Regions from separate parts of the Homo sapiens genome. Here all the other regions are linked to region 1. Evidence: fine-mapped expression QTL. A gene starts in region 1. Each other region holds a variant in brackets. All regions are shown on one strand. Distances are between the middles of the regions.

What was found. PIP is the estimated chance that this variant, and not a neighbour inherited with it, causes the effect. A credible set is the group of variants that fine-mapping cannot tell apart.
Region 2: its variant is the best candidate, but not a certain one, in a credible set for the expression of SYTL4 in nasal epithelium (TOPMed, PIP 0.59).
Region 3: its variant is the best candidate, but not a certain one, in a credible set for the expression of SYTL4 in subcutaneous fat (GTEx, PIP 0.68).

The regions. Positions count from the first base shown.
Region 1 is chrX:100,730,780-100,733,279 of GRCh38, forward strand. SYTL4 (synaptotagmin like 4) reads right to left here and starts at 1,342. Exons shown (of 20, transcript NM_001370165.1): 1 at 1,225-1,342; 2 at 639-726.
Region 2 is chrX:100,668,215-100,671,053 of GRCh38, forward strand. SRPX2 (sushi repeat containing protein X-linked 2) reads left to right here. Exons shown (of 11, transcript NM_014467.3): 10 at 1,034-1,155; 11 at 2,593-2,839. The coding sequence ends at 2,773. Among named protein-coding and RNA genes, the nearest start is that of SRPX2, 25 kb to the left of the region's middle. The variant A/G (reference allele first, on the strand shown) is at 1,602.
Region 3 is chrX:100,679,980-100,682,830 of GRCh38, forward strand. SYTL4 (synaptotagmin like 4) reads right to left here. Exons shown (of 20, transcript NM_001370165.1): 17 at 1,248-1,356. Among named protein-coding and RNA genes, the nearest start is that of SRPX2, 37 kb to the left of the region's middle. The variant A/G (reference allele first, on the strand shown) is at 1,171.

The sequences.
Region 1 (2,500 bases):
CTTTTCTACTAGGGTGCTAAAAACCAAACAACCAAAAACGCAGAAAACTTCATCAAGGCCACGTCTCTGCATTAAACATTGTTCCCACAGCGACAAAAGTCTTAAGTCATTAATACCTCAATATTAATAGATTTATGAGAGGTGGGGGTGGGGAGCTTAAAGAGCAGAAAATAAGCCAGTTAAATATAGGAGGTCCAGGATGTACAGAAGACTCATTTTTGCCACAAATATACAAGGTCTAGGGTCAACCCTGCCAAGCACAGTACTCTGGAATTTTACGTCCTCTAATCCTGAAGAAGCAGGGTACTGGGGGAAGAAAAGCTTGATTAGAAAGTCACCACTTTTCAAGCCACCAGAATTCTAACCAAATGATTTCACCACCCCAAATCCCACCTCATTCAATGTTAAGGGTTGGAGGAACACCTTTTTCTGCCCCATTACAAACCAACACAGGAGACAGAAGCATTCTGTGCCCCTTCTGAGATCTCGGGGACCCTCCTCCAGTACCAGATCTCTCACAGCCTGCTTGAAGAGCGGCAATATAAAGCAGCTCCACAGCACACAGCCAGGTCCCCAGCCCCAAGCGCAGAGGGAGCCCACTGAGGCAGGACTCCAGCCAACCAGCCTCCAGCCTTTACCTGTGGCTGACTGGCCAACGCCAGAGAAGCCGCGATGTCGTAGGTCCGAAGAGAGTGCGGGTTAGCGACCCCGCTCGACGGCCGAGCGCTGTGAGAGGAACCCACGAAAAGGTGACTGGACGCCTTGGAGGGCGCAGTTCCCGCTAGGAGCTCGGCCCCGCCCCCGCCCCCAGGGCCAGCTCTCGGGAGGGGCACCAGCTCGGGCTGGCGGGAAAAAGCCCGGGCACTCCCCGCGAGGGGAGCCGAAGAGGAGAGGGGAGGCGGCTCCCAGAGGGGCACAGACCGCATTAGTGCTGGGTGGGTCAGGGAAGGGGCCAGAAGAAGCCCTGGAGAAAGAAAAGTGGCCGGGAGGGACCGCCCAAGCAGACGGGAGTCCAAGCCTGGGGATGCGGTCGGGAGAGGCGGACGGGGAGAGGGGAGACGCGGTCAGCTAGGGAGAAGGAAAAATTGGGGGACCAGAGAGCGGGTAGGGAAGACGCACGACCCCGAGATGGGGGTGGGGGCGCTTCAGCAGCGAAAAGGAGCTGGGGGTCCAGAAGGAGCACCGGACCGAGGGCGAGGGGCCGGCCGCTGGCTGTTGACCTACCTGTCACTTGCAACAGGTGCCTCCAGAGATCGAGAAGTCCCAGTGCCGGTTTCAAGGGAGGGTCTCCGGCTCCGGGAAGATCGCAACCCAGCTCCGGCAGCCGGCCCTTCTCACCCTCCCGGGAGGCGGAAAAAGCTGCAACTTTCCCTGGAGCGGGGAGGAGCTGGACTCTTAAAGGGGCCGCACAGCGCCCCGGGCTCCTTAGCAGGGGGCCACTCAGCCCAAAAGGGAGCTCTGGGACCCAAAGCCTTGAGACACAAGAGGAATGTCCTTCCAGGTTAGGAATGGGAGCCTGGGGACTGAGGATAGGGGTCTAACACTAGACGTGCCTCCTCACCCACTTACTTCCATCTGTTGGTCACTCTCTTAGACGGTGAAATCACCTGTCTCTTTCGTTCAGCTGAGTCAAAAGTTGTCAAATTGTCTCACACTTCTAAGAAGATAAAAGAGTATGAACTATCTAATTTGAGTAAATAAAATATAATACCATTCTGATCCTTTGACTTGTGGCCTTTTATGGCAAATAAATGTCTGTCTAAAATAGAAACGTTTTGGGCAAAAGCGTAGACTAAATTCATACATACACACTCAAGGACACAACTGGTTAAAATATCCAACTCACTAGTAATCAAAGAAAAGCAAATTAGAACAATAATGAGATTCTTTGGCAAAGATATTTTTTATTTTTTAATAACACTTAATGATGACAAAGTAGCCACCAAACAAGCTGTCTTAATTGCTGATAGCAGCATATGTTGGTTAAAAACCCTTTTAGAAAGCACGTGAGCAATATGTATCAATAGACTTGAAAATGTTTATACCTACCCAGTAATTGCAGATTCCTCTCCCTGCCTCTCCCATCCCTCTCCCCCTCATTTCACATCAGCAATTAAACATGCTCAAGTATCTACCATCTTAAAAAAAGAACCTCCCTACACAGGAGGTCCCTCTTCAGGTCCTCTTTATGGGCAAATGTATTGAAAATGTACTTCACAGGTGAAATTGCAATTTTTATTCCCTTACTTCTCATTCATTTCTTAGCTCTCAGCAGTCTGGCTTCCTTCCCCCACTGAAACTTCTCAATGAGATACACAAACAATGACCCTCAGTGTCAATAAATCCATAAATAAGTAAGGTATTTTTGGTCCTTATTTTGCTTGACTTCTCCCCTACATTTAACACCGTTAACCATTTCCTCGTCCTTGAAACTTTCTATGGCATCTATGACATTTTACTCTTTTGCTTTTCCTCCTACTCCTTTGCCCTCTCCTCAGTG
Region 2 (2,839 bases), 62 kb before region 1:
ACAAGGGGCTGGATACCCACGTGGGAGAAAAAGCTACTTAGGAGGCTTCTAAAGATTGAATCTTAGAAGTTGCCTAGTGAATATTCAGAGGCCCAGGATGGAAGCAGTTTTACAAAAAAAAAAAAAAAGAAAAAAAAAAAAAAAAGGACCCTGGAGGGTCTAGACCAAAAAGAGGGCCTTATTCATCTAGAGATCCAAAAAGACTGACAAAGGCAACAGTTCCTTTGGAAGCAAGGGAGTAAGAACAAGAAAAGGAACCTGTCAGCAAGCATAGTGACTCTGAGGGTAAGGACTAGAGGGGAAGCCCAAAGATGAAACAGAGGTGGGGTGCCGGGGAGTATTCAAGGCCTCTTTAAACCTCACCCTGGTAAATGGCTAGCAGGTGATCCTGCAAGACAAGGCAGGACAGAGATCTGGGGTAGGACTGCAAGCTGCACTGCCCAGTGCAAGGAAGGTAACAAGGGGTAATGAAAAGAGCACTGGGCACAATTTTGGAGAAATCCTGGAGACCGAGCGAAGGCCCTGGCCAGGTAGCCTATTGGTAAAGAGCACACGCTTGGGCAGGGGGCATCAGTCCTCAGTTTGAATCTTGGCTCAGCATGTTATTGTCACCACCTGGCTTGTGAGGGGTGTTGTGAAGATTAGATTATGTCTACAAAGCATTAGGTTTGTGTATTCAATAAACAACAGCCATTATCATATCACATTGGCTATCCATCAAGAACTTATGTAATTTAAAACCTATGCAAAGCTAAATGATTATGTTCCTGCAATTTACTCATTGCATTTCTCTTCTCTACCCCACTTTGTGTAACTGGTTTCAGTAGAATGAAGGAAACACTGTTGGGGCAAGTACTTCAGGAATGACAGAGGGAACAGGTTGTTGTAGACCCCACAGTGTGATTGCGTGATCATTGGGGGAGAAGGAGCTCCTTTCCCACACTGCTTCATATGGTCCCAGGAGGAATCAGCCAAGTAGCCTTAGGTTTGAACGCACAGCTCTGTTGCATAAAATGTTCTGTCTCCCTCCCAGCAATCCACCTGTGGACTGGATTTGCGGCATGTGACCATCATTGAACTGGTGGGACAGCCACCTCAGGAGGTGGGGCGCATCCGGGAGCAACAGCTGTCAGCCAACATCATCGAGGAGCTCAGGTCCAGGCTGGGAGGCTGCCAAACTTGGGGGGAGGGGGGGCTGGGGCGGGGGGAGAAACCCTAGGCAGGACACTGGCAAAAGCGGACTATGGGGAAACCATCAGACACTACTCTCTTGCGGCACTTCTTGCGTTTGAACTCTTATGGATGCATTAGGTAAGACCAGAGAGTAGTTTCTTTACTTTGGTAGAACATCAGAATCAAATGAGGGCTTAAAATACAGATGACCAGGCCCCATCCTAAACCACCTTAGGAATGTGCTTTTACAAAGGCACCTGAGGGGACTCTGAAGCACAGCCAGGGCTGAGACAGTAAACCCAAACTTGACTCAGATAAGCCCCTGCTCTTGTTTTCTGGCCTCATCTCTTTGCCTTCAGTCTCCAAAGGAGCAAAAGCCATCTTTTTTTTTTTTTTTTTTTTGAGACACAGTTTTGCTCTTGTCGCCC[A/G]GGCTGGAGTGCAATGGCACGATTTCAGCTCACTGAAACCTCCACCTCCCAGATTCAAGTGATTCTCCTGCCTCAGCCTCCCGAGTAGCTGGGATTACAGGTGTGCACCACCACACCCAGCTAATTTTTGTATTTTTAGTAGAGACAGGTTTCGCCATATTGGCCAGGCTGGTCTCAAACTCCTGACCTCAGGTGATCTGCCCACCTCCGCCTCCCAACCTGCTGGGATTACAGGCATGAGCCACCATGCCTGGCCGCAAAAGGCATCTTTAAGCACTGAAATCTGAGTAAGATCTATCAAATCCTGGGGAAGAGAACATTAGAGGTGACAGGTGATGGAAGAAGTGGGTCTTTCTCATTATCTATCCAGTATCACCCTTCTAATGCCTTCACATATATTCAGGGCCAATAAAGCCATCACTGCTCTGTTTTAGAGCAGTGCCTCTAAATGATAGAGAAACTATACCTGCCTCTAGGGCACAGTCTCAGTGGGGACAGAAAGATTCAGTCCTAGTTAGAGAAGAGACTAGAAAACCCTCAGAGGGAGACTGCAGACTTGCAGCTACAGATGGAAGAGTTAACCAGAAGGTATTTATCAACCTAAGGGCTGCCATGTATGATGTGCATACACAGCACAGTCTCTGCAGCGGGTGGCCCCTGGAGTCACCCTGTGCAGCCTGCACAGCAATATGTGATAGCCCTGCTTAAAGGGGCCTACAATGAAAGCACCGCCTGTTAATAACAAAGTTGTTGCAGCTGAGGTGAGGAAGGGACAGCTTAGCAGAACTAGATGCATAGAGGCAGCAAGAGTAGAATCTGAACACAGAAAAACAAAGCGACTTGAGACAGGAAGTAGAGGGAATGGGGACCAGGGATGAGGTGGGGAAGGAATTAGTCCATGAGTGGAGCTGCAAAAAGTCAGAGGGTAGTAGAGCCTGTGGGGATGGGTGCCCAGACAAGGTCTCATACCTCCCTGGGCTGTTCTCTCTAGGCAATTTCAGCGCCTCACTCGCTCCTACTTCAACATGGTGTTGATTGACAAGCAGGGTATTGACCGAGACCGCTACATGGAACCTGTCACCCCCGAGGAAATCTTCACATTCATTGATGACTACCTACTGAGCAATCAGGAGTTGACCCAGCGTCGGGAGCAAAGGGACATATGCGAGTGAACTTGAGCCAGGGCATGGTTAAAGTCAAGGGAAAAGCTCCTCTAGTTAGCTGAAACTGGGACCTAA
Region 3 (2,851 bases), 51 kb before region 1:
CAAGCTATTCTCCATGTCTCTACTTTCTTTCACCATCAATTATCCTGAGGAAAAAAAGTCCACACTTACCACCTCTACTTCTTTGCCCATTCACTCAGCCTAGTTTCTAGTGAAATCTGGTTTCTGCTTTCACTGATCCACTGAAAATGCAATCTAATGCCAATTGGCCATGTCTTCTCAGACCTCATCTGGTCTGACCTCCCTGTAGTATTTCAATACTGTTGATAACCTCCGCCCCTTCTTCTTGAAGCTCTCTCCTGATAACCTTTTACTTCACTGGTGTTTCTTTCTCTCTTCATCCTTTAAAATGTTGCTGATCTCTCTGGTTCTATACTTGCCTCTCTTCTCTAGTCATGCTACATACCCTCATTGGGGATTTCATTGATTCCCCCAAACCTTCTAGATGTGACTCTGCCAAAGGTATATTTTTTCAAAGAACGTAGGCCACACATTGCCAAGGGATCAAGTGAAACTCTTTATCATTAAGTTCAAGGCCCTCTTCAGTCAGGCTCCCACCTCATGTCCAACTCCAGCCCCACACCTACATCTAGTGTACCAGAACTCCAGTCCCACTAAAATAAGGGACACACTCACATACAACCCCACATTACCATGCCTTTTTAAAACCTTTGCGCATGTTATCCCCTCTTCTGAAAATGCTCTTCTCTCCTCATCCTGCTCCTTTTCTGTCTGGTAAAGTTTTAAGATCCAGTTTTAATGTTACTTCTTCAAAGCTCTCCCAAATGTAACCAGACATAATTCACCACTCCTATATCTGTGTCCTTTTAGCACATGACTGTCTTTCTTGCAAAAACTTAAGCTCCTCAAGGGAAAGCAAATATGTTTTACTCATCTACACAACCGTAGTCACTAACACAGCAGCTGGCATGTTGAATTACTCTTCCCCAGCTTTCAACTTCCTGTCCTTCATACTTTACCACCTCTCCCAGCCACCCTTCTCAGCCCCAAAGTTTCTGTTCTCTTCTGCCCTCTTAGTAGCTTGCCACAGCTGGACCAAGACCAAGTCCATTTAATAGCCTAAAAAAAGAAAAGAATGCCAACCCTAAGGCATTCCCTTCTGTTTGAAAAAACGCAGAGAGGCTTCCTTAGTAAAGGAATCTCCCTAGCAGATCCAGGGAGCATCCCAATTTGGTCTCTCCAACAGTGCTA[A/G]CCAGTAGCCAGCACCGGCCTTGCACAGATCCTATGCAGAAGACTAAGCTACATCCAGGACCCCAAAGAAAACTCACTCTTTTTCCGGTCACCTCCAACAGGGGTTTTGGAGGCTGGGATGTATTTCAATGAAACCACCAACTCGCCTTTGTGTGATGGCAAGCCAGTCGGGGACTCAGCACTGATCTGAAACACAGGGAAACCCAACAGGTCAAGCTGGGCTTCTCAAGAATTGTTGGGACTTCTCTCTGAAAAAAATTCTAAAATTACCCCCCAAGAACAGCATCAGGGCAAAAGAGGATCCTTCTTCATATGAATATAATCCACCGTCCCTAGGCCATGGCAGCCACAGGTTTCTATGGCAGTTTCTTTAGAAGGAAATAGGGCAGAACCAACAAAGAGTCTTCTGCAATACCCACTATTATGCCACTTTGGGGGCATAGTTACTAGATTCCAAATACTCTCAAAGATCTTCAAGCAAGGTTGCCATACAAACTCACGAAGGACTGACAGCATGACAGAGAATCTTGCTACCAGCATTGTTAGTAATAGCCAAAAAGTGGAAACGACCTAAATGTCAATCACTATAGAAAGAGTTAAATGAATAATTGTAGTGTCCTGGTATGGCATATGGCATGCAGTCATCAAAAAAGAATTCAGTGAATCTGTACATGCTGACATGGAAAGATATCCAAGACATAGGGTTAAGTCAACAAAGCAAGATGCAGAAAAATGTTCCACTTATATTAAAATATATTCATAGTTGTACATGTGAATATAAATGTATGTAAATAACGATTGCCATTATCACTTATGTTAGCCCTTACTATGTACTAGGCACTGTTATAAGTACTTTAGGTGTATCATTTTGTTTGATGACTGTCTCTATGAGACAGGTACTATTAACTCCATTTTACAACTGATGGAAGAGAGGAACAGAGAAGCTAAGTAACTTGCCCAAGGTCACACAGTTAGTAATTGGCAGAGCTAGGATTCAAATTCAGACAGACTGGTTCCAGAGTCCGTGCTTTTAAACATTATACTACACTGCATAGAAAAACCCAGGATACGAACAAACTTATCCTCGTTTCCTCTAGGGAGGGCAACAGAATAGGGAAATGAAAGACAACTTTCCCTTTTTTACTCCATATTAACTTTTAGTGTCCTTTTAATGAGAATAGTATATATCATTTGTATGGTTTTTAAAAATACAAAGTATTTTTACAAGGTATTTTTAAAAAGAAGGCTTGCAGGGGAAAAAAAAAAAGAGGGCTTTCAGTCAGGTGCAGTGGCTCACATTTGTAATCCCAGCATTTTGGGAGGCTGAGGTGGGCAAATGCTTGAGTCCAGGAGTTCGAGACCAGTCTGGACAACACAGCAAAACCTTGTCTCAACAAAAAACACAGAAATCAGCCGACGGGGTGGTGTGGGCCTATAATCCCAGCTACTTGGGAGGCTGAGGCATGAGAATCACTTGAACCCAGGAGGCGGAGGTTGCAGTGAGCCAAGATCGCACCACCGCACTCCAGCCTGGGCGACAGAGCCAGACCCTGTCCCTCCCCCCAAAAAAAGAAAAAAGGAGGGCTTGCAAAGATTTGAGGGCTAGGTGAAACTCTGTTACACGAATTTGGATTTGCCACAATTATAAATTTTGCATTTAAGTTATCTTTGATCAATGTCT